4 separate regions of the Homo sapiens genome follow, and regions 2, 3 and 4 are each reported to be linked to region 1. The links are microRNA targets in miRTarBase. Many come from high-throughput screens and were not tested one by one. Region 1 holds a microRNA gene; each other region holds the end of a gene's coding sequence.

Evidence for each region. The annotated mature microRNA hsa-let-7b-5p reads UGAGGUAGUAGGUUGUGUGGUU and lies in region 1 at 5,097-5,118, shown strand. An mRNA with a match to its seed (bases 2 to 7 or 8) in the 3' UTR can be bound and repressed. Matches are read on the target gene's strand: a 7mer-m8 pairs with bases 2 to 8, a 7mer-A1 pairs with bases 2 to 7 and ends in A, and an 8mer does both.
Region 2: miRTarBase lists ALDH7A1 as a target of hsa-let-7b-5p. The part of its 3' UTR that is shown has no 7-base or 8-base seed match.
Region 3: miRTarBase lists BIRC5 as a target of hsa-let-7b-5p. The part of its 3' UTR that is shown has no 7-base or 8-base seed match.
Region 4: the mRNA of TIAM1 is a reported target of hsa-let-7b-5p. The part of its 3' UTR that is shown has no 7-base or 8-base seed match.

Annotation. Positions count from the first base shown.
Region 1 is chr22:46,108,595-46,114,650 of GRCh38, forward strand. MIRLET7B (microRNA let-7b) reads left to right here and starts at 5,092; the gene lies at 5,092-5,174. It overlaps LOC124905135 (collagen alpha-1(III) chain-like), which reads left to right. Exons shown (of 2, transcript XM_047441696.1): 2 at 1-5,334. MIRLET7BHG (MIRLET7B host gene) reads left to right here. Exons shown (of 5, transcript NR_110479.1): 4 at 673-759; 5 at 1,170-5,334. MIRLET7A3 (microRNA let-7a-3) reads left to right here and starts at 4,155; the gene lies at 4,155-4,228. It also overlaps MIR4763. RefSeq lists an enhancer at 2,183-2,716.
Region 2 is chr5:126,540,946-126,547,001 of GRCh38, reverse strand. It overlaps ALDH7A1 (aldehyde dehydrogenase 7 family member A1), which reads left to right. Exons shown (of 18, transcript NM_001182.5): 17 at 603-678; 18 at 1,983-5,161. The coding sequence ends at 2,037. Among named protein-coding and RNA genes, the nearest start is that of ALDH7A1, 51 kb to the left of the region's middle. RefSeq lists enhancers at 2,555-2,604, 2,971-3,265.
Region 3 is chr17:78,223,103-78,226,102 of GRCh38, reverse strand. It overlaps BIRC5 (baculoviral IAP repeat containing 5), which reads right to left. Exons shown (of 4, transcript NM_001168.3): 4 at 468-2,638. The coding sequence ends at 2,549. Among named protein-coding and RNA genes, the nearest start is that of TMEM235, 7.0 kb to the left of the region's middle.
Region 4 is chr21:31,115,722-31,121,777 of GRCh38, forward strand. TIAM1 (TIAM Rac1 associated GEF 1) reads right to left here. Exons shown (of 28, transcript NM_001353694.2): 28 at 2,697-5,116. The coding sequence ends at 4,647. Among named protein-coding and RNA genes, the nearest start is that of KRTAP19-8, 80 kb to the left of the region's middle.

The sequences.
Region 1 (6,056 bases):
CTGGCCTTTGCACCCCGTGCGCACCCTGCAAGGGCACTCCTGCCAGAATGGGCTGGCGTGAGGTGAAGTTTTCATTCACTGGACAAGACCTTGCCGAAGCCCTGCAGCCCCAGACTGGATGCTGTGGGCCCCTCCCGGGGGTTTCCGCTCGTGGGAGAACCCCAAGCCTTCCTCGTCCTGGGTCCCAGGGGAAGCCACAGCCCCCCTGGACCCTCAGCATCCTCCTCGGTGCAATGGGGGCTTAACCCCTCCCTCCATAGTCCAGCCACCTGCTGACAGGCCAGGCACCCGGGAAAGCAGCACCAGGCTGTCCCCCCTGTGCATCCTGCTGCCCTCCTCTGGGCCCTAGAGCATCCAGGCACCAGCCTGGCAGGGCACAGGCTTCCCAGCAGGGGGACATGACCACTGACCACTCAAGGACAGGCTTGGGTCTTGGTCCCCTCTGACCTGGCATTGTCCAACACAGGGCTGGCCACGGAGGCCATTCCACATTCCATCCAGGCCCTTACAGGGGTGGGTGAGCCACTAGGCGAGAGACGGGCCAGGCTGGAGTGTCGGTTCTGGTGCGGGACGGCTGGGCAAGGCCCAAGGTCACAAAGGGGTTCAGAGCTGGGTAAGGCCACGTCTCTTCCAGAGCTGACACTTGTCACTTTTGTTTTTAAAACCCAACAGGTCAAGAAGTGGCGCTGACCTGGAGCCCCTGCCTGGGGCTGGCCTTCCTCACAGTGAGCTGGGCCTCCTGCCATCCTGGCTCTGGAGGTAGGAGGAGCCGTGGGAGGTCTGATAGGGAGGGAGGGCTATCTCAGAGCCAGGCCACTCCCGGTCCTCTCCAGGCCCCACCCTCAGGCACAGAGGTCCTTAGGTGGGGACTTGATGGTCTCACAGCCAAACCTTCGCCCAGGCTGTGGCCTCCCCTGAAGCCATGTCTCTTCTTGTCTTCCCGCCACTCTTCCAGCAAGCTCCCCCCGTTGGCCCACCTCATCTGCCCACTGTGCACTTGGGGCATGGTGATCTTTGACCCTGGTGGTGCACCCCTCAGGCTGGACAGGGCCTGAAGGAGCCGTGGTTCATTGCAGGGCGTCTGAGTGGAAGAGGCTCAGCCTCACCTCCACACCCTGAAGACTCACTCTCTGGCCCTGGGCTCTGTTGTGTGCACCGCCTGTCTGCAGGGCCCAGCCTGCCTCGAGCACTCCCTGGGGACAGAAGCTCCTGCGCTGGCCTCTCCTGTCACCTAGCCACCGGGCATCCTGGAGTGCAGCCCTCATGCCCCGAGGCCACCTGCCATCGCCCAGGATGACTCAAGATGCCACCTGGGTAAGTCTAGCCCAGAACGAGAAAGGCCGAATGAGGGAAACTGAGTCACATCTGCTTCTCCCAGGTGGGGCTGGGGGCCCAGGGGGAGGGCACTTGTGGTGACGACCAGGGTGGACTAGGGGCCTGTCTCCCATTCTGTCTCTGCCACACGTTATAGAGCCCGACCTGTGGGCTGGGTCCCCCCATGGTGAGCACTGTAGGCTCTAGGAGGCTGAAGTCCTGGCCTGGGGGACCTGTGGGGGCCAGGCTGGGGCCATTGGAATCAGTATGGTGGTCCCCACCTGCACTCCAGCTCCGATGGCTGATGACGGGGGCCCTGGCAGCTGACCCCTTGCCTCAGTGGGGAGACCACGGCTCACGAGGGCATGAGACCTGCCCAGAGCATAGCCCAGAGGCCGGCCTGGATTCTCACAGCTCCGCCCACTGGGCTGTCCTGCCCCACCCCCTTTTTAGCCTGCTGGGACCATGAGTCAGAACCCAGTAGGTGTGAGGGGACCCAGCCAGCCCAGGTGGCCAGTCCAGCCTGAGGGGGTGGGGGTCTCAGAGATTAAGTCAGGAGCCCAGAGTGCGTGCTTAGGGTGCAACCCACCCCACAGCCTCCCCCAAGGCACCTCCCGGGGGTGCAGATGGGGGCAGACGCAGGGACACTCAGGGTGGACCACCTGACTGGGAGCTGATCATGAGGTGTGCGACAGCCTGAGTCAGCCTCAGCTCAGAGGAGCTGGGATGGCCTTGATCTTCCCCCTCCGGCCACTCACCACAGCTGGGAGGGTCCAAGGAGACCCTCAGCCACTGTCCCTTCAGCCCTCACCCCACCCTGGCTGGCTCTGCCCGGACAGTCCTTAGGGACATCTTGGTCCTGCCCACCAGCCAGGGGACCCAGAATTGGAGCAGGGGAGCAGGACCCCCAGACCCTCTCATACCGCTTTTGTTCTGAGGCCTTGAGGGAACACGGGGTCTTCGCGACCCCAGGCGAGATGATGCTGGGACAGAGGAGGGTCGGGCTGCATCGGGGCCCTCCTGGTCCCCACTCCTGGGTGAGTCAGCATCTCAGTCTCCAGTTCTGGGTGGGCGGCACCAGGTGTGAGCCTCAGCGGTCTCCTTGCTGGCTAAGGACCTGGGATTTGCTCCAGTGCCCCTCGGGAGGGAGTAGGACACGTGCCCAGAGAGCAAGCAGACCCCCTCCCCGACCAACTTCTGAGAGCAAAGACACCTAGAGCTAGAGATTCAGCACCCCCTGAGCCTCAGTTTCTCCACTATGAAGTGGGATCCGTGATCTCAGCCTTACCAGGGCTGTGAGGATTAAATGGTCCAGCCCAGCCTGGGGCCTGCCTGGAGTAGGCAGCCTGCTCAGGATGGGCTGTGGAAGGAGGGCTGGGGTAGACCTTTCAAGTCCACTTGGGCATGGGGAGCTGAGAGCTAGCATGCCGTTTAACTTGGCAGGAAGCAGGCCGGGCGCAGTGGCTCATGCCTGTAATCCCAGCACTTTGGGAGGCTGAGGCGGGCGGATCACGAGGTCAGGAGATCAACACCATCCTGGCTAACACGGTGAAACCCCCTGTCTACTAAAAATACAAAAAATCAGCCGGGCGTAGTGGCGGGCGCCTGTAGTCCCAGCTACTCGGGAGGCTGAGGCAGGAGAATGGCGTGAACCCAGGAGGCGGAGCTTGCAGTGAGCCGAGATCGCGCCACTGCACTCCAGCCTGGGGGACAGAGTGAGACTCCATCTCAAAAAAAAAAAAAAAAAAAAAAAAAAAAGCTTGGCAGGGAGCAGGACATTTGGACCTCACTCTGCTGCCCCCTTGGCTGTGTGACATCCAGGTCACGTTGCCTCTCTGGGCCTCGGTCTCCTCACCTGTTTAAGAGGGGTTGACAGTCGTATCTGCCCCCTCAGCTTTTCCCCAGGAAGGTGGTAGCCACAATTAGCATTTGTTGAGGCTGACCCTGCACCAGGCCCAGGATAGGCGGGGCTTAGGGAGGCCCGTCTCTCGCCACGTTCCCCTGCTAGGGGAGCCCCGAGGCCCTCTCAGTGTCATCCTCATGCTACACTCTGTCCCAGCCCTGTGCGTCCCAAGCTAGGGCACTGAGTGTGCCAGCACCCGCAGGGACAGGCACTGGACCCTGGGTGGACCTGAGGGTCTGTGACTACCCCCCCAGCTGCTCTCCCCTAGAGGCCACTTCCCTCAAGGAAGGAAAGAACCTTCCCGCCACCTCCTGCAGTGCGGTCAGCTCAGGCCAGCCTGCACAGCAGGGCCAGAACCAGGGCCCCTGGGGAGGGATGCCTGCCTGCCCAGTGGGAGGAGACGGCACGCCCGTGAAGCCGCTACTCAGCCAGCCTGGGGGCCACGAGTGCTGCTTCTGGTGGCGCTGTGCGGGGAGGGAGGGGGCCGAGCAGGGTGGGCACTCGCATGCCTGTGTCTTGCTGGCCTTCGACAGATGACAGCCCTCCTCCTAGGGTCTCCAGTGCAGAGTTCCTTGGGGACATTATGGCCACTCCTGTCCAGATGAGAGGGAGCCGGCTGCCTGTGACAGCGTCGCAAAATGCCGCCAGGGCTTTCCCTCCCTCCTCCTTTCTCTCTTCCTCGTCCCTCTCTGGTTGGTGGTTTCCTGCAGGCTCCCGTCCCTGCTGGTGCTGGCCACAATGTCCCCACTCCCAGGGTTTCGGCGTCCCAGCCCCCTGCGCCCACCGCGCCTGCCCGCCAGAATCCCTGTGCCCTTGGTGCGTGTGGCCTGCCGAGCCTCGAGCCCCTGTTCTCCTCAGCCCTCTTTCCTCCCGCGTCCCCAGGAGGTGCCTCTGGAAGCCACGGAGTCCCATCGGCACCAAGACCGACTGCCCTTTGGGGTGAGGTAGTAGGTTGTATAGTTTGGGGCTCTGCCCTGCTATGGGATAACTATACAATCTACTGTCTTTCCTGAAGTGGCTGTAATATCTGCGGTGGACAGAGCGTCTGGAACCCTGGCTGGGAGCGGGCAGGGCCAGGTTTGGGGGCAGCCTTGGCAGCAGTCGGGGGCAGGGGCCGCCTACACTGAGAAGTCTGACAGGCCTAGGTGCCACTTGCTGTGTGACCTTGGACAGGCCCCTGATCTCTCTGGGTCTCAGTTTCCTCCTCTGTAAAATGGAGGCAAATGAGGATGGAAGGAGATGCAGTGTGGAGCATCGAGGGCAGAGGAGAGCTGAGCCGACCCCACCCTCTGCCCCAGCCGCACTGAGAGAGGCGATCCACGCAGCTGTTTGTCTGACCTCTGTCTCCCAACACTCCCCAACACTCCCCCCGCCATCAGGCCCAGGCTCATGGGTGGCCCTGAGCCGTACCCTCCACTGAGCACCAGGAGAAGGCACCGTGGGGCCAGGGGTGGCCGAGACGTTTGGAGGTCACAGGGCTGCGAGTATTGGCGTTGCCCATCACCCCAGGTTCCCAGCACGTGCCCCAGCCTGGCCAGCTCAGTGGCAGGGCCTCTGCCTGTGGAGGAAGGGAGGCCAAGGCACCTTTCCTGAGCAGGAAGTGAGAGGAACAGCTCTGCATACACTGGGTCCCACATGGCACAATCTGAAGGCAGACAGTGGCTCCTCTGTACCTGGGGAAACTGAGGCCCAGAGAGCCAGGGACTTCCCAAGACCAGCCAGCAGCAGCTGCCCCTTCCTGGGGTGCCATCTCCCCTGTCCCTCCTGCCCTGCGCCTGCCCAGCCCTCCTGCTCTGGTGACTGAGGACCGCCAGGCAGGGGCTGGTGCTGGGCGGGGGGCGGCGGGCCCTCCCGCAGTGCAAGGCCGGGCCTGGCGGGGTGAGGTAGTAGGTTGTGTGGTTTCAGGGCAGTGATGTTGCCCCTCGGAAGATAACTATACAACCTACTGCCTTCCCTGAGGAGCCCAGTGACACGACCCCATGGGAGGGCCGCCCCCTACCTCAGTGACACGACCCCACGGGAGGGCTGCCCCCCACCTCAGTGACCTGCAGGGGGCCTGAGCCGAAGCTGGGTGGGCATCTGGGAGCTAGATTCAATAAAGCTGTTCTGACCATGAACTTGGAACTGGCCCCTTTCATTCTGGAAGCCCAGGGACTGGGCTCTGGGGCGCGTCTGCTGCGGGACAGTGTGGAGGCCCCTGGCCACGAGCTGTTCCAGGTCATGAGACTTGTCTGCTCACGCCTCCCGGTGCCTCCAGAGTCCTCAGTTGGCTCCGTGCTGTACCCTGGGCTCAGGATCCCAGGCCCAGCCCGTTCTCTGCCCTCTCGTGCTGCCTTTGAGCCAGGCGGGCTGAACACCGGGACCCAGGCCCGGTGGAGAGGTCCCCACGGGGCAGCCACCAAGGCCCCAGGTCAGCAGCTCAGAGCACTGCCAAGTCCTGGCTCCTGAGGCCACCTCCGTGCCTTAAGTGCCTTGACCAAAGTCTGGACGTGCCTGTCCTTCCGTCCTCCCTCAGGACAGTTTCCAGGGCACCCGTAATTCCTCTGACAGACTGCCATCCCAAAAGTGCACCCATTCTCCTGGGAGGCCTCAGGCCCTCGTCTAGCAGCTGCCGTAGGCTGGGCCCAGTGATCCCGCCCTGGGCATGTGGGGTGGGCTTGTTCATGCCTGGCCCAGCACCGAGAGCCCCTGGTGGGGAGGGGCTGATACAGCTGGGCCCACACCTCCCCCACCCAAGTGCCCATCCTCGCCCCTCCTGTTGACCCAGGCCACAATCTTGGCCCAGATTCCCCCCTGTGCCCTCCTGGCCTGCCTTGGTTCTGCAGGCAACCCCAGCCCT
Region 2 (6,056 bases), not on the chromosome of region 1:
GCTTGTGCATTTGAGAGCTAGAAGGGCAAACATTCAGCTGTGATTTTTCTGGAACCCATTTAATGGAGATTCTTTCCCTCTCATGAGAAAGACCAGGTGAGTAGTTAATAGAGAAGCTTTTATTTCAAAATTGTTATATTTTCTTAATGTATTTCTATCAAATGGGAATATTTGTGTTTTCCCTGATAATTTAATACAAGTTATTGAGAGAGATAAAGAAGACAGTTACAGCTCCCATATTCTTGTGCCCTGCTCAAAAGAAAAACTATGAATAACATGTGTGGGCTGGGCACGGTGGGGTTACAGGCATGCACCACCACGCCCAGCTAATGGGATTTTTTTTTTTTTTTACCGTTTCTTTCTGTTTCCATTTCTTCTTAATTCCTTATATTTTATTTTCCCTCTTAATTCCTTTTTTCTGTTTGTTTTGGTCTCTTGGTCTCTGTCTTTGATTTGTTTGCAGGGGAGATATTGTGGGCTAAATGTAAAGTAAATAATCAGGTTGTTCTGGTGTCCTTTTGGTATCTTCTTTTCATTGATACCAACTATGAGCCCACATGGAAACTGCTCAGAAGATATGATATTATTTTTTATTTCTCTAGGAGGAGAAAAGCACACTGGTGGTGGCAGGGAGTCTGGCAGTGATGCCTGGAAACAGTACATGAGAAGGTCTACTTGGTAAGAAAAGGCTTTGGGAAGATAGGTTTGGGCTTAAAACCCTTGGGAATGGGCTTTTACACTTTCCTACTGTCTGTGCTGTCTTTGTGCAGTGTCATTTGATTTGATTTTTCCAGCATTCCACAGCTGTCTCCTCTAAGTATCTATTTGGTGCTATTTTTCTAGCCTTCTTGTCTAGCTTCAGCTAGTGCCCAGCACCCAACAATGAAATGGTCTCGTGCGTGGTTTCTGTATTTTTAGTAGAGTTGGGGTTTCTCCATGTTGGTCAGGCTGGTCTCGAACTCCCGACCTCAGGTGATCCACCCGCCTTGGCCTCCCAAAGTGCTGAGATTACAGGCGTGAGCCACAGCACCCGGCTAATTTTTGTATTTTTAGTAGAGATTGGGTTTCACCGTGTTGGCCAGGCTGTTGTTGAACTCCTGACCTCAGGTGATCTGCCTGCCTCGGCCTCTCAAAGTCCTGGGATTACAGGCATGAGCCACCATGCTGGGCTGTTTCTTGCACTTTTGAGGGCACACTTTTTTTTTTTTTTGAGATGGAGTCTTGCTCTGTCACCCAGGCTGGAGTGCAGTGGCCTGATCTCAGCTCACTGCAGCCTCAGCCTCCGCCTCCCAGATTCCAGCGATTCTCCTGCCTCAGCCTCCCAAGTAGCTGTCATCACAGGCCTGCACCACCATGCCAGGCTAATTTTTGCATTTTTAGTAGAGACCGGGTTTCACCATGTTGGCCAGGCTGGTCTTGAACTCCTGACCTCAGGTGATCCACGCCTGCAGTGGCTCATGCCTGTAATCCAAGCAGTTCAGGAGGCTGAGGCAGGTGGATCATTTGAGGTCAGGAGTTCAAGACCAGCCTGGCCAACATGGTGAAACCCCGTCTCTACTAAAAATACAAAAATTAGCCAGGCGTGGTGGTGCACAGCTAATCAGGAGGCTGAGGCAGGAGAATCGCTTGAGCCTGGGAGGCGGAGGTTGCAGTGAGCTGAGATTGTGCCATTGCACTCCAGTCTGGGTGACAGAGTGAGACCCTGTCTCAAAACAAAACAAACAAACAAACAAAAACCACCACCAACAAAAAAAACCATGTATGGTATGTCTTTCCAGATTTTTATGTTTCTGTCTTTTTTCTTTTAAATAAAACGGGATCCATACTAACATTGTCTTTTATCTTAAAGGTTTGTCTTAAAAAGTTGTAACTTGGAGATCTTGCCTTGTTAATATATACAGATCTGCTACATTTTAAAAGTGGGCATGAAAATCTTCTGTTATGTATGTACTGTCATTAATTCTGTTATTTTTTCCCACTAGTACTATCAACTACAGTAAAGACCTTCCTCTGGCCCAAGGAATCAAGTTTCAGTAAAGGTGTTTTAGATGAACATCCCTTAATTTGAGGTGTTCCAGCAGCTGTTTTTGGAGAAGACAAAGAAAATTAAAGTTTTCCCTGAATAAATGCATTATTATGACTGTGACAGTGACTAATCCCCCTATGACCCCAAAGCCCTGATTAAATCAAGAGATTCCTTTTTTAAAAATCAAAATAAAATTGTTACAACATAGCCATAGTTACTAAAAGATGAGTTAGGTGGATTTTTATTATGTCAACTAGTTGTACATGGCTTTTTAAAAGTTAATGATTATTTTGTAATTAGAAAAAAATAGTACGTACCAGGGTAGGAATTTGGGAAAATACAGAACCGAGGAGAAAACAGAAGTCTTTGCAGTAGATACAGGGTGTCTCCTGACCAAGTGAAGGATTCAGGGGCGGGGGGTGAATATTGCTTGACATTACCCACCTATGGCATGTGTTGGATGTCGTGTGATTGAAAGGGGGATGCATTCCCCTGTATGCTTGGACCACAGTTCAGTATTCATGTGGAATAACTTGCAGTGCTTAAAATGACAACAGGCATTCATCACAGTTATGGCTCTTGCTTATGAAGGCTGTGTCAACTTGGAAGAGATTTCTGGGGTAGACAGATTTTGTTCCTGTGCTGGAGTCTGCCACCTGCTGGAGGACTCTGAGGCCAAAATTGCCCGTGCAGAGTTGTATAGAAAATGCGTCTGGAGGCTGGGCAAGGTGGCTTACGCCTATAATCCCAGCACTTTGAGAGGCCGAGGCGGGTGGATCAGTAGAGGCTAGGAGTTTGAGACCAGCCTGGCCGATATCGTGAAACCCCGTCTTTACCAAAAAATACAAAAATTAGCCCAGTGTGGTGGCAGGCACCTGTAATCCCAGCTATTAGGGAGGCTGAGGCAGGAGAATTGTGTGAACCCAGGAGGCAGAGGTTGCAGTGAGCCTAGATTGTGCCACTGCCTGGGCAACAGTGAGATCCTGTCTACAAAAAAAAAAAAAAAAAAAAGTGCATCTGGATTTTTTTATACAACCTTAGACCACCTTCTTTAGCTTTAGGCGTCTGCGGTTGCCCTTGGATCTGTTCTCAATCCTCAGTGTGTGTGGCAGCATGTGGTCATAGAGAGCTGGGCAAAGTTCACTTTCTCTTTGCTGACAGTCTCACCTTTTCTCACTGGGAAGCTGCACAGGAGCCTTTGGGCTGGTTCAGCCCAGAGGCCCCTGTTCTCCTGCCTTCCTGGCATTCTCTGCTCCCCTTCTGCATGGCACCCCTCTACTCCTGCCAGGTTAGAATGGAGCAGAGGCCTTTGAACAAGATGACATTTGTAGACAACCTGATCCATCAGGATGTGGAGAGATCTGGACAAATGGCAAATAATTTGGGGTTGAATTATGGCCCAGAGAAGTAAGCAAATGAAAAACTAAACAATTATAAATGTATCTGGGAAGCAAAGGTATTCATAATATGTCCCATGGCCAGCTGCGAGCAGTATTTAACTAGACATGCTGTTGTCAATATTGAACATGAATCAAGCCAAATACTGATATAGCTATTGAGAGAAGGTTGGCAGGAAGAAATCATGGGTGAGGGTATGTGGGAGTGATAATCTTAGCTATAGATTTTAGGTAAAACTGATTCTGAAAGCTTTCTTTGAAACAAATTTATAATTTTTCTTCTACATGTTTCTAGCACAAGGACTCAATTTTTTTTGGTTATAATGTTCATTAAAACATATGCCTTCAATTTGTTCCTCTTTGTTCTTTTTTGCTGATTTAGCAGATATAAATCACTTGTTAGTATTTTTAACTATCCAAGTTAAAATGTACATTTGTAAGTGTTATTACTGGTCTTATATTTGAAGGTGCAAGGGGTCTTGTGCTGCTCATTACTGGTTATCTTGAGCATTTCATAACTGCTGCCTCCTCCTAAATCCTGTGTTCCAACCGCTACTGCTGGCAATGCCCAGCCTCCATTGTGGATGCGGGGAATTGTGTTCAGCATGCTTGCTTCTGCCACGGCACTAAAGCCTAACTTGCTTAGGATCTTGCTGTACTTGGAGAGAGCATCCATTCGCTGAGCCTAGCAGCCAGGCTCTTGTGACTCCCTGGGAAGTGGGTGAAGACCTGGCTCCTGGCTGCAGCAGTGAGGAGGCAGGCCCTCCAGGTGAAGACTTCTCACAATGGAGGGAAGGCAGTTTTCTCAAAGGAAATTGAGTGCTATTATGTACTCTGCTTCCTACTTTCTCTTTCAGGGTGGGAATCTGTTAAGCCTCCTCTCTCTCTTGCTCTGCAACCACAGAACACTTCTTTTTTTTTGGTGTCTCAGTTTTGCCCACACTGGAGTGCAGTGGTGCAATAGTGGCTCACTGCAGCCTCCAACTCCTGGGCTCAATCTATCCTTCCACCTCATGCTCCCCAGTAGCTGGGACTACAGGTGCATGCCACTGTGCCCAGCTGATTATTATTTTTTTTTGTAAAGATTGGGTCATACTACATTGCTCATGCTCGTCTTGAACTTGTGGCCTCAAGCGATCCTCCTGCCTCAGCCTCTTGAGTTGTTGGGATTACAGGAGTGTGCCACCATGCCCAGCTCTGTGGAAAATTCTCTGTGGCATTCTGTCTCCTGAAAATGCTGAAGGGACCAAGAGGGCTCTGTGTCCTTCCTCTTCTCTTCCCTGGCACTTTCAGACCATTTTCTTGTTGCCTTCATTCTAACAAAGGTTGCAGATTGGAAAGCTGATTTGGAATGCTTTTTAAGTGTTTTCAGTTTCAATATTTTTATGAAATTCCTATGGTCTCCAACAAACTTTTTTTTTTTTTTTTTTTTCTACACCTGGAGCTTATCCTGCAGAAGCTTCCTGCCAATGATTGTTTTGGAGGAAATTAAAAGAAAACCAAACGAAACCTCTCCTATCCAAGGGGAAGAACTTTATCCCCATATTGATTGAATATAGGATTCTAGATTTAAAATGTTGTAGGCAGTTAGAGTTTGCTCTTTTTTTTTTTCTATTGGAAAGGTCCACAAATGTTTTATTGACATTTTTGTCTTTAATCCATTTGGATTTGGGGTACATGTTACGATTTGTCTACGTTAATTTCCCTTTTAAAAATAAAAATAATTCCTCAACTCCAATTAGACAATTGGGTTGTCCTTTTCACACTGATACCTCTTTTATAGTACACTGCATTCTTACATATAACAGGATCTGTTTTTAGCTGTGTATCCTGATTCAGTAATTGGTATATGTGTGTGTGTATATAGATAAATAGAATGCCATTTCCCTGTGCAGACGGAAGGGCAAGCTTATTCCCTTTTCTGCGACTACATCTCCTGTCAGGTGTCGCCTCTGCTGTGGCTCTATAGGATTCTGTTAGATAGTGGTGGTCATTGCACAACTCTACAAATATACTAAATGCTACTCAATTGCTCATTTTAAAATGGTTAAAATGGTGAGTTTTATGTTGTATTTTACAATAAGAGAAAAAAACATACAAAGCAAATTAAGCAATAAAAAGGGCAGTTACTAACTCCAGGGAAAATAACATTTGATTCTGTGATCTTTTAAATTTCTTCTACTTAAATTGTTTTAGAGTTCTACATATATTAGCCATGTGACCTGCAAAAAGTAACCTAATCTCTTTGAACTTCATTTTCTTGTCTGTAACGTGGGTTGTATCAGTTCGGTTTCTTTGTGGCAAGCTGCGGAAACCAATTATGGCTTTAGCAAACATGGTCTGTTTTGGAAAGCCCAGATCCAATTTGCCTCTCCAGAACCACTCTCTGACATTCTCCTGCAGTGTGTCCTTAGGGACTGATCTCTACGGTCCACTTCATCTGGGCTTGCTTTATCCTCTGGCTTCTGATTGTGTTTGGCCAGTGGTAGAAAATCAGAGCAGAAAAAAAAATGTCAGAGTATTAATTTTCCCACTCCTTCCCTGCCAGTCTGTGGTAGTTACTGTCTTTTTTTTTTTTTTTTTTTTTAAGGAAAATGTACACAAAGCGTGTTTATTGGGATGATTTCTCATTC
Region 3 (3,000 bases), not on the chromosome of region 1:
CCCTCCCAAGCTGACAGTGTCCTTCAGCAGTGAGGGCCCAGCTCTGGAGCCAGATTGCCTGGGTTCAAATCCCAGCTCTAAAAGTTACTTATTCGACTATCCTGGACAAGTTATTTCATTTCTACAAGTCTTCATTTCTGCATTAAAAAATGGTAGCTAGGTCAGGCCCAGTGGCTCACGCCTATAATACCAACAAGTCGGACGCTGAAGCAGGATGATCACTTGAGCCCAGGAGTTTGAGACCAGCCTGGGCAACAAAGTGAGATTCCATCTAAACAAAAAAAAAAATTTTTCAATTAGCCGGGTGTGATGGCGTGCGCCTGTAGTCCCAGCTACTTGGGAGGCTAAAGTGGGAGGTTCACTTGAACGCAAGAATTTGAGGTTGCGGTGAGCTGTGGTCATTCCACTGCACTCCAGCCTGGGAGGGCAAGGCCTTGTCTCAAAAAAAAAGAAAAAGAAAAAAAAAGTAGATAAAACCACATGAGACTTTATTGGCAATTGTGAGTTACTCTTTCCACATGGCGACAGCCTGCAATGGGGGCTCCAGTTTGGCTTGCTGGTCTCTTCTGGGCAGCGGGCACTGCTGTCTCTACTTTCCAGGATGGCAGTTGGCCCGAGGGGCTCTAACCTGCCATTGGAACCTCACCCATAGCCCAGAAGCCTCATTCACAACCCTTCCCAGACTCCACTCCAACTTAGAGAACCTGAAAAATGGACATGTGGACATGTATCTGAAAGAAAGTCTAGGCGGTTGCACTTAGACAAGGGCCTACGGCTTTATTAACAGATGTCGAGGAAGCTTTCAGGTGCTGGTAGCCATGAGGGTCTGGTTTTAAGGATGGCCTTTAAGGAAAGGCCGTGGCAGGCGGGCTGAGAGGGGCGGCTCCAGCTCAGCCCTGCCCACAGCACAGGCTCACAGAAGCCGAGATCCACATCACCGCCTGGCATGCAAAGGAGTTGAAGACAAAACCATTTTTTTCCAGCTTCTCTACAAAGCCAATTACTAAGCAACAGTTATTAAAGTGAAGTATCCATTTACAGACTGACACAAATATCAAAAATAAGCAGCTTAGATGAGTACAGAGGCTGGAGTGCATTTTCTGCTAACAAAAACCACTGTGATATTCTCCCAGTTTAGAGGGAAAAGTCTATCTCAGGCCGACTCAGATGTGGCAGAAATAAGTGGGTCTGAAGTGCATTTTCAGTTGTTTCTGCCCGGAAGGAGCCCGGATGATACAAACAGGTCTGGGGTTCGTGGCTCTGGCAAGCGCCCAGAGACAACTGCGTCTCTGCCAGGACGCTCATCCTCACTGCGGCTGTCTGGGCAGATGGCTGTTGGCAGGCTAGGGACGACGATGAAAAACTGACAATATTTTAAAAACCCAGTAGGGTCCACAGCAGTGTTTGAAATGACAGGCTTTTTATTTCTCAGGAACAGCCGAGATGACCTCCAGAGGTTTCCAGCGAAGCTGTAACAATCCACCCTGCAGCTCTATGACAGGGAGGAGGGCGAATCAAATCCATCATCTTACGCCAGACTTCAGCCCTGCGGGAGCTGCTGCCTCCAAAGAAAGCGGGGACCTGGGCGGACTGCGTCTCTCCCCCGTGTGGAGAACGTGACAGATGTGAAGGTTGGGCTGACAGACACACGGCCTGCAGCAGCCCAGCCAGTCCCCCACAGCATCGAGCCAAGTCATTTAAAAAGGATTTAGGCCACTGCCTTTTTCTGAGGGAGGAGCGGCCAGCATGTGCCCCGCGGCTCACTGGGCCTGTCTAATCACACAGCAGTGGCAAAAGGAGTATCTGCCAGACGCTTCCTATCACTCTATTCTGTCTCCTCATCCACCTGAAGTTCACCCCGTTTCCCCAATGACTTAGAATGGCTTTGTGCTTAGTTTTAATTGTAGTTTGTGCTATTCTGTGAATTAACAATTCAAACAAAATAAGAAAGCCATGTTGTTAAACAGTAGAGGAGCCAGGGACTCTGTCTCCATTCTCTCATCACACACAAGTCATGCATCTACCAAAAAAAAAAAAACAAAAAAACACAACAACAAAAAAACTGTCCTCTGAGGAGGCACAGGTGTGACAGATAAGGAACCTGCAGCTCAGATTCAACAGGCACCTGCCAAGTCCACACTCAGGACTGTGACAGCCTCAACAACATGAGGTCCAGACACATTCACTGTGGAAGGCTCTGCCCACGCGAACAAAGCTGTCAGCTCTAGCAAAAGGGACACTGCCTTCTTCCTCCCTCACTTCTCACCTGGTAAGCCCGGGAATCAAAACAGCAAAAATGAGCCCCCAAAAAAGAGAGAGAGAGAGAGAAGCAGCCACTGTTACCAGCAGCACCCGCTGCACAGGCAGAAGCACCTCTGGTGCCACTTTCAAGACAAAACAAGAGCACAGTTGAAACATCTAATTTGAAAATGTTGATCTCCTTTCCTAAGACATTGCTAAGGGGCCCACAGGAAGGCTGGTGGCACCAGGGAATAAACCCTGGAAGTGGTGCAGCCACTCTGGGACCAGGCAGCTCCGGCCAGAGGCCTCAATCCATGGCAGCCAGCTGCTCGATGGCACGGCGCACTTTCTCCGCAGTTTCCTCAAATTCTTTCTTCTTATTGTTGGTTTCCTTTGCCTGGAAATAAAGAATAGACACATGACACTGAAACCAGAGCTTCCCAGTCACATCCTGTAGATAAGATGACAAAGGAAAAAACAATCAGGGAACACTGAGAGAGCACCTAAATAAACTGGGCACTGGGCTAGGCAGATTCCCAGCTACCTGGGACAAACATCCTGATTCAGCTCAACTCCCTCTAGTTTAAGCTGCCTCCTAATCATCGAATAACAGGAAACACTGACGGAGTGCTTGGTATGCACCCAGCACCACTCTACCTGCTTCCTCCATTAACTGATTTATGTTCACAGTGATCCTGCGCTGGGTGCTCCCATATCTCTACTATACAGGTGAGGAAACCGAGGTCCAGGCTGAAGGAG
Region 4 (6,056 bases), not on the chromosome of region 1:
GCACTGTTCAGCAGGAGACAGTATCTTGCCAACAGCATCCATACTCCATGTGTTTACAGAAGCCTTACACATTCATGATTTGTGTTCTGAATACTCCTTTTTCCTTCTACCAACAATGACTTCCTTTAGAGAAGCCTAGGGGGATTGTGACACTGCCTTTTTTTTTTTTGAGATGGAGTTTTACTCTGTTGCCCAGGCTGGAGTGCAGTGCGGCACGGCAATCTCAGTTCACTGCAGCCCCACCTCCCGGGTTCAAGTGATTCTTCTGCCTCAGCCTCCCAAGTTGCTGGGATTACAGATGTGTGCCACCACGCCTGGCTAATTTTTGTATTTTTAGTAAAGGTGGGATTTCACCACATTGGCCAGGCTGATCTCGAACTCCTGACCTCAAGTGATCCACCCGCCTCGGCCCCCCAAAGTGCTGGGATTACAGGTGCGAGCCACAGCACCGGCCATGACACTGCAATTTTGATCTCACACATTCTCTACGTAAGTGGCTGAATATTTTGAGTATTTCTTTCTCTCCTTGTATTTTCATGACTTCCCCCCAACCTGCTCAACACCTCCCTTCTAAGGCAACTGTCACAGGGATTCCCTATCCCAGAATAGGTTTGCATCAAAAAGCAGAACTGCCTATAAAACTTGGGTATCAACAAAAAATTTGCAAAAAGACACAAGGTAAGGGCTCCCCACTGCAACCCAGCTTCACTGTCCTCATCCCCATAACCACACACACACAGAAAAGGCAATAGCCAGCAGGGCACGATGGCTCATGCCTGTAATCCCAGCACTTCGGGAGGCTGAGGTGGGTGGATCACGAGGTCAGGCATTCGAGACCAGCCTGACCAACATAGTGAAACCTTGTCTCTACTAAAAATACAAAAAAATTAGCCAGGCGTGGTGGCGGGCGACTATAATCCCATCTACTCGGGAGGCTGAGGCAGGAGAATCCCTTGAACCTGGGAGGCGGAGGTTGCAGTGAGCCGAGATCACGCCACTGCACTCCACCCTGGGTGACAGTGTGAGACTCCCTCTCAAAAAAAAAAAAAAAAAAAGGCAATAGCCCCTGGCTGGGGATACAGTCAGGAGAGCTCTGTGGAAGGGGAGGGACCAGAACTTGGGGGAGGCATCCTGGCAACGTCCCAGAGAGGAGACAGAACACCGGGGACCAGGCTGCAGAAGAATCCTGGGTGAGCAAAAGGATACACTAGAGAGCCCACCATCACGCGTGAAGGAGCTCGTGGATGGATGAGGACACTGGTCACTGCTACAGTTATCTTTGCAGAAGGAAGCACCCCGCCCCCAAACCTTAAGAACTGAAAGGGAGAGGAAAACTGAGGATGTTTTCTGCCAGCCTGGTGGGAGGGAGATGAGCCTGAAAATAAATGAAAACTAGTGGGGAAAGGCATGATTGTTCCTCTATAGTTGACTTTGAGCACTCATTTCCTCTGCACACACAGGCTCAGCTATTGGTGAGGAAAGCAGCCCAAACTGCTAAATCTCATTTACACCAGAGTACAAACTGCTGGAATAACTTCATGGAGCAGGTGTTAAAGCTGGCTTCAGTCATCCCCCAAGTCGGATGCACTGGCTACAGAGAGACATCTTGTGTCTTAAAGATGTACATATTGCTGCTGTAATGCCTGAATATATTTAAAATAAAGAGGAATGTGCTCCAAATCACTGCTCAACATCAGAATGTTTGGAGGCTACCAAACGAATGTGACTCAAACATGAACATGGATGAGTCATCAGAGGATCCTGTTAAGATGGAAGTTCTGGTTTAGTGCCTCTGGGTGGGGCCCAAGTTTCTGCATTTTTCTTTTCTGAGACAGGGTCTCTGTTTCCCAGGCGGGAGTGCAACAGTATGATCACAGTTCACTGCAAGCCTCAAATTCCTGAGCTCACCTCCCACCTCAGCCTCCTGAGTAGCTGGGACTAAAGGTGTGAACCACCACGACTAGCTAAGTATTTTATTTTTCGTAGAGATGGGGGTCTCACTATGTTGCCCAGGCTGGTCTCGAACTTCTAGCCTCAAGTGCTCCTCCTGCCTCCCAGTTTTCTGCACTTCCAACAAGCTCCCAGTGACACCGACGCTGCTGGTGTCAGGACCTCCACTGTGAGGAGCAAGTAGCTACACCACAGGGCTCCCCATGCGCCAGGGAGAGGCTCTTCTAGTGACAGGAGACAATCTTTTCACTGAGGGCAGGGATGGATGGGGTAACATTGATGGGTAAGGTTTGTAAGGGACTCGAGAGGCTCAGATCTGGGGACTCTGACAGGAAGAGAAAGGCAGCCCAAGACTGTATTTACCTTGTTTGGTGATTCTGTGAAAGACTCAGGCAGCAGGCCCCCGGTGATAAAATGTGGAGTGATTCAAGAGCTCAGTCAGGCCAGTCAGAGCTCTGCACTTCACCCCAATATTTTCACAGGAACCCCCCCAGCCTGCTCCCATCGGGATAGGCAGGAGACTGGAAAAGAAACAGTGCCCAGTAGGGGCAACGTTAGGTCAAGATGCCATGCAACTGTAATGCACCTTTTGTTGTTGTTAAAACTTCAAGCGCTACAACAGCGTTCTCCTGATGATCACGAGTTATTTCAATAAATGGCATTCCCAGGAATCTTCTCCCACGGCCGCTCTCCCGCCAACAATTCATACTCATCCTCCCATCCAAAAAGGCATAGAACCGCCCAGACACTTTTCGTTATTTTTATTGTTTGACAAGCATTTACAACGTTCCATTCATAGACCTAAAAACATAAAAATAGACCTTCTTTCAGCTTATAAAAGAAATATATAAGAACTTTTGACATAGACACGTCATGACCTTATGTACAAGAGACAATGGCACCCTCTCCAAGCACCAGACTTCCGAGTGTTTTCAGATGGATGTGTTGCACTGGAGCCAGTAAATGCGACGATTAGAAGCCTCTGCTTCCGTTTTCCATCTGGACGCGATCGAACCGGAGATGATATGGAAAAATGCAGTGATACAAAGGGTATAGAAACCATTCTAAAGCTTTTTCAGAAAACCAGAAGATATAGCAAAAATTTAATAGAATAAAACTTTCAAAAGATCAAGCTCGAAGCCCTGGAAACCCGAAAGGCGGGGGGAATACAGGGTGGGAACGCAGGAAAAGCAGGCAGAGGCACAAGAGCATGATGTACTGAACTCTCTATTGTCTGGAAATATAAAGTCATAACTGATTTTTATAAAATATAACTCCTAAAGCTACTATAAAATTCAGGTCTTTAAAGTACCTACTGATGTGTCAAACACCAAATAGATATTTTCCCCAAAAAGAAAGTTTTCATAGTATTTTAAACCCTTCTTAGGAAGTGGACATTGTGACATGGGAAAAGAAAAAGCTATAAACCTTTTTTTAAAAAAAAAAAAAAAATTGAAAGTGCTATAACTTGTTTTTCTTCTTAGTATTTGGATATCTGTTTAGACTGTTAATGTTTTGAGCATGTTTACCCTGTTTCGTTGGCATGAAGAAAGTGTTAAACACAAGAGAAGTTTTTAAAGAGGTTGTTCTGTTTAAAGGTTTGGTTATGGACTGTCAGGGAAGGGGAAGGTAATCTATGGATGAAGATGCAATTTTGATGGAAAAACCAATGATCACCATGGCAACCCCATGAGAAGGAGGCTCCCCTCCCTGCCATGTGCAACAGACACACACACCGCCCACCGGGGTGTCATGTTTAATCCAACCAAACTCCCATCTCAAATATAGATTCAAACATTAAAAAAAAAAAATCCGCTTTTTGGAAGAAAAGTATATCCTTCGCATGAGCTTGCTGGCCTTTCATATATAAATATAAAACCACCACGCCTCACTCTCTCTGTAAAAGGTTATATCCTCATTTTTTAGGCTCAGGGATACATACACTAACACTGTAAAATTCTCATCTATTTGTGCCCCTGTATCTCAGGTAAAATACAAAAAATAGTGTTTCTTTTCTTTCTCTCAAGCGATAAATTTGGATCTCTTTTCAAAGAGTTTGGCATCTCTATAATTCTATGCAAAACTAGAGCTTCCGAACATGGACACAGAGTAAGACCAGCCATAGACCAAAACAGGAAGGAAAAAAAAAAAGAGGCTCATTGAAACATGAATCGCCACCCTCTCCTCACACATTCTTAAAATACACGGAGATTCTCAGACATGGAAGAGGGAAGGGTACAGTCAGAACACGGCAAGCTGTACACATTTCATTTTGTGTGTGAAAGAGGTTTCCCCAGCTAGGAGACTGATTTCAGATAGAAGGATCGTGTGTGTGCTACTATCCCTTAAATTAATCTGTTGTACATCCGTTAACTCCTGGGGTGATTTGCTTTCCAGTGCTATAGAATCTTTTTTCTTTTAATTGTTCAGGCCCTGATTTATTGAGAATAAATAAAAGCCCTTAGTAATATACAGAAGATAGGACTCAAGCTTATTTGGGATTCTGATCAATTCTTTCTGATGTTGTTGAAAATGACAAAGTTGGGTGGCTACATGGCTTCAGAACCAAGTCAGCTGCCAAAACCGTGTGTGCAAGAGCGCGACCTAAGGGGACATTCTTGTCGACGGTACAGGAGGGTGGGCAGAGTTAGGGCAGGAAGTATCTACACACATTCTCTACGGGGCAGGTGACGCAGTCAGATCTCAGTGTTCAGTTTCCTGGAGGGGGCAAAGTCTTCACGCCTAACCCAAATGACTTCCTCGCTTGCGCTCTCCAGGCCTCCATTGATCCCCGACAGGGCAGCTTGCTTCTTGAGCTGTGCCATGCGGGACGCGTGACTATCCAGGGTTTTCCGGCCTCTTTCCCGCTGACTGATGGAGGTGGCCTGAAGCCGCTCCTGCAGGTCTCTGTCCACTGAGGCACCCTTCACGGACTCACAGAACTCATCATCGTCACTGAGGATGTCTGTCTCCTTGATGTCATCTTGCTCCTCATACTGAGCAAGATCAAACTGCTCCTCTACCCATCGGTCAGTGTCCCCACCACCGGGGGGCTGCTGGGACTCTTTCTCCGGGCTGCTTGCGGAGACGGCATCAGAATCAATGGTAAACCTGTTTCGAGCCAGCCGCCGCCTCCTCCTCCCAAGAGACTTGCTTGGGGCAGACACTGCACACACACACAAAAATATAAAAATAAAACCCCCACATGCTTTACGTGAGATGAAAATCCAGAAAGCAAAGGACAGGAGAAAATAAAAACCAAAACGGTATGCATTGAATGCCTTGATGTCTTTTGGGGCTTAAAGTCTACATATCACCAATCTGTCATGGAGCATTTACCTTGTCGAGGTATCTGGACTTAGAGGATGTTCTAGCAACTGATGCAAGGGCAAGGGGGAACCGGGGCACACAGGAGAGGTTGTAGGTTATGGGCAAAGGGGCACTCAACTCCCTCTGAAATAATCTACTGTTCTAGCCTGTGCACCTAAGAGATGGGTAACACAGACAGCAGCTGCTCTCAAGTAGACAGACCACTGATTTGGGGATCAGTTAGTGAGTTAGTGTCCTCAATCCTGGCCATGTCCCATGGCCCAGTGCTATGAAGATCCCCAGGGCTGTCCCAGGGTTGTTTAGCTGGAATAGGTCTTTAGTAAGGGTGGGGGTGCATCTATGGTTTTGCTGTCTTTGTAGAATGTGCATCAAGGAGGCAGAAGCACCAGTGTAAGTTACTTGTTTTCTGGGAACTGGAACATAACATTTCTTGGGATCTGCAGTTAGATTAAGGGCACCACGTCACTCTTAGAGAGCCTATGAAAAAGAGTGGCTCTCAAAGACATGGGATCTTCAGTTATTTCCCTGTCTTCTTTCTGACAAAGTCCCACATGAGCTAGGAAGCTAAGCAAATGTGTGCCTTAGTCTCCCCCAATTACAGTCTGTGTATCACTCATTCTTCTCCAAAGCAATTAACATATCAGTGCCTCATTGGAATGAGAAATAAAAAACCGATGACATCCAAGCAGTTTGATCAACAAAGTGCTGTATAAAGTGACTACCAGTTAAGAAAAATTCATTCTTTCACCTACTGCCCTCTAGGAAGCCAGAATTAA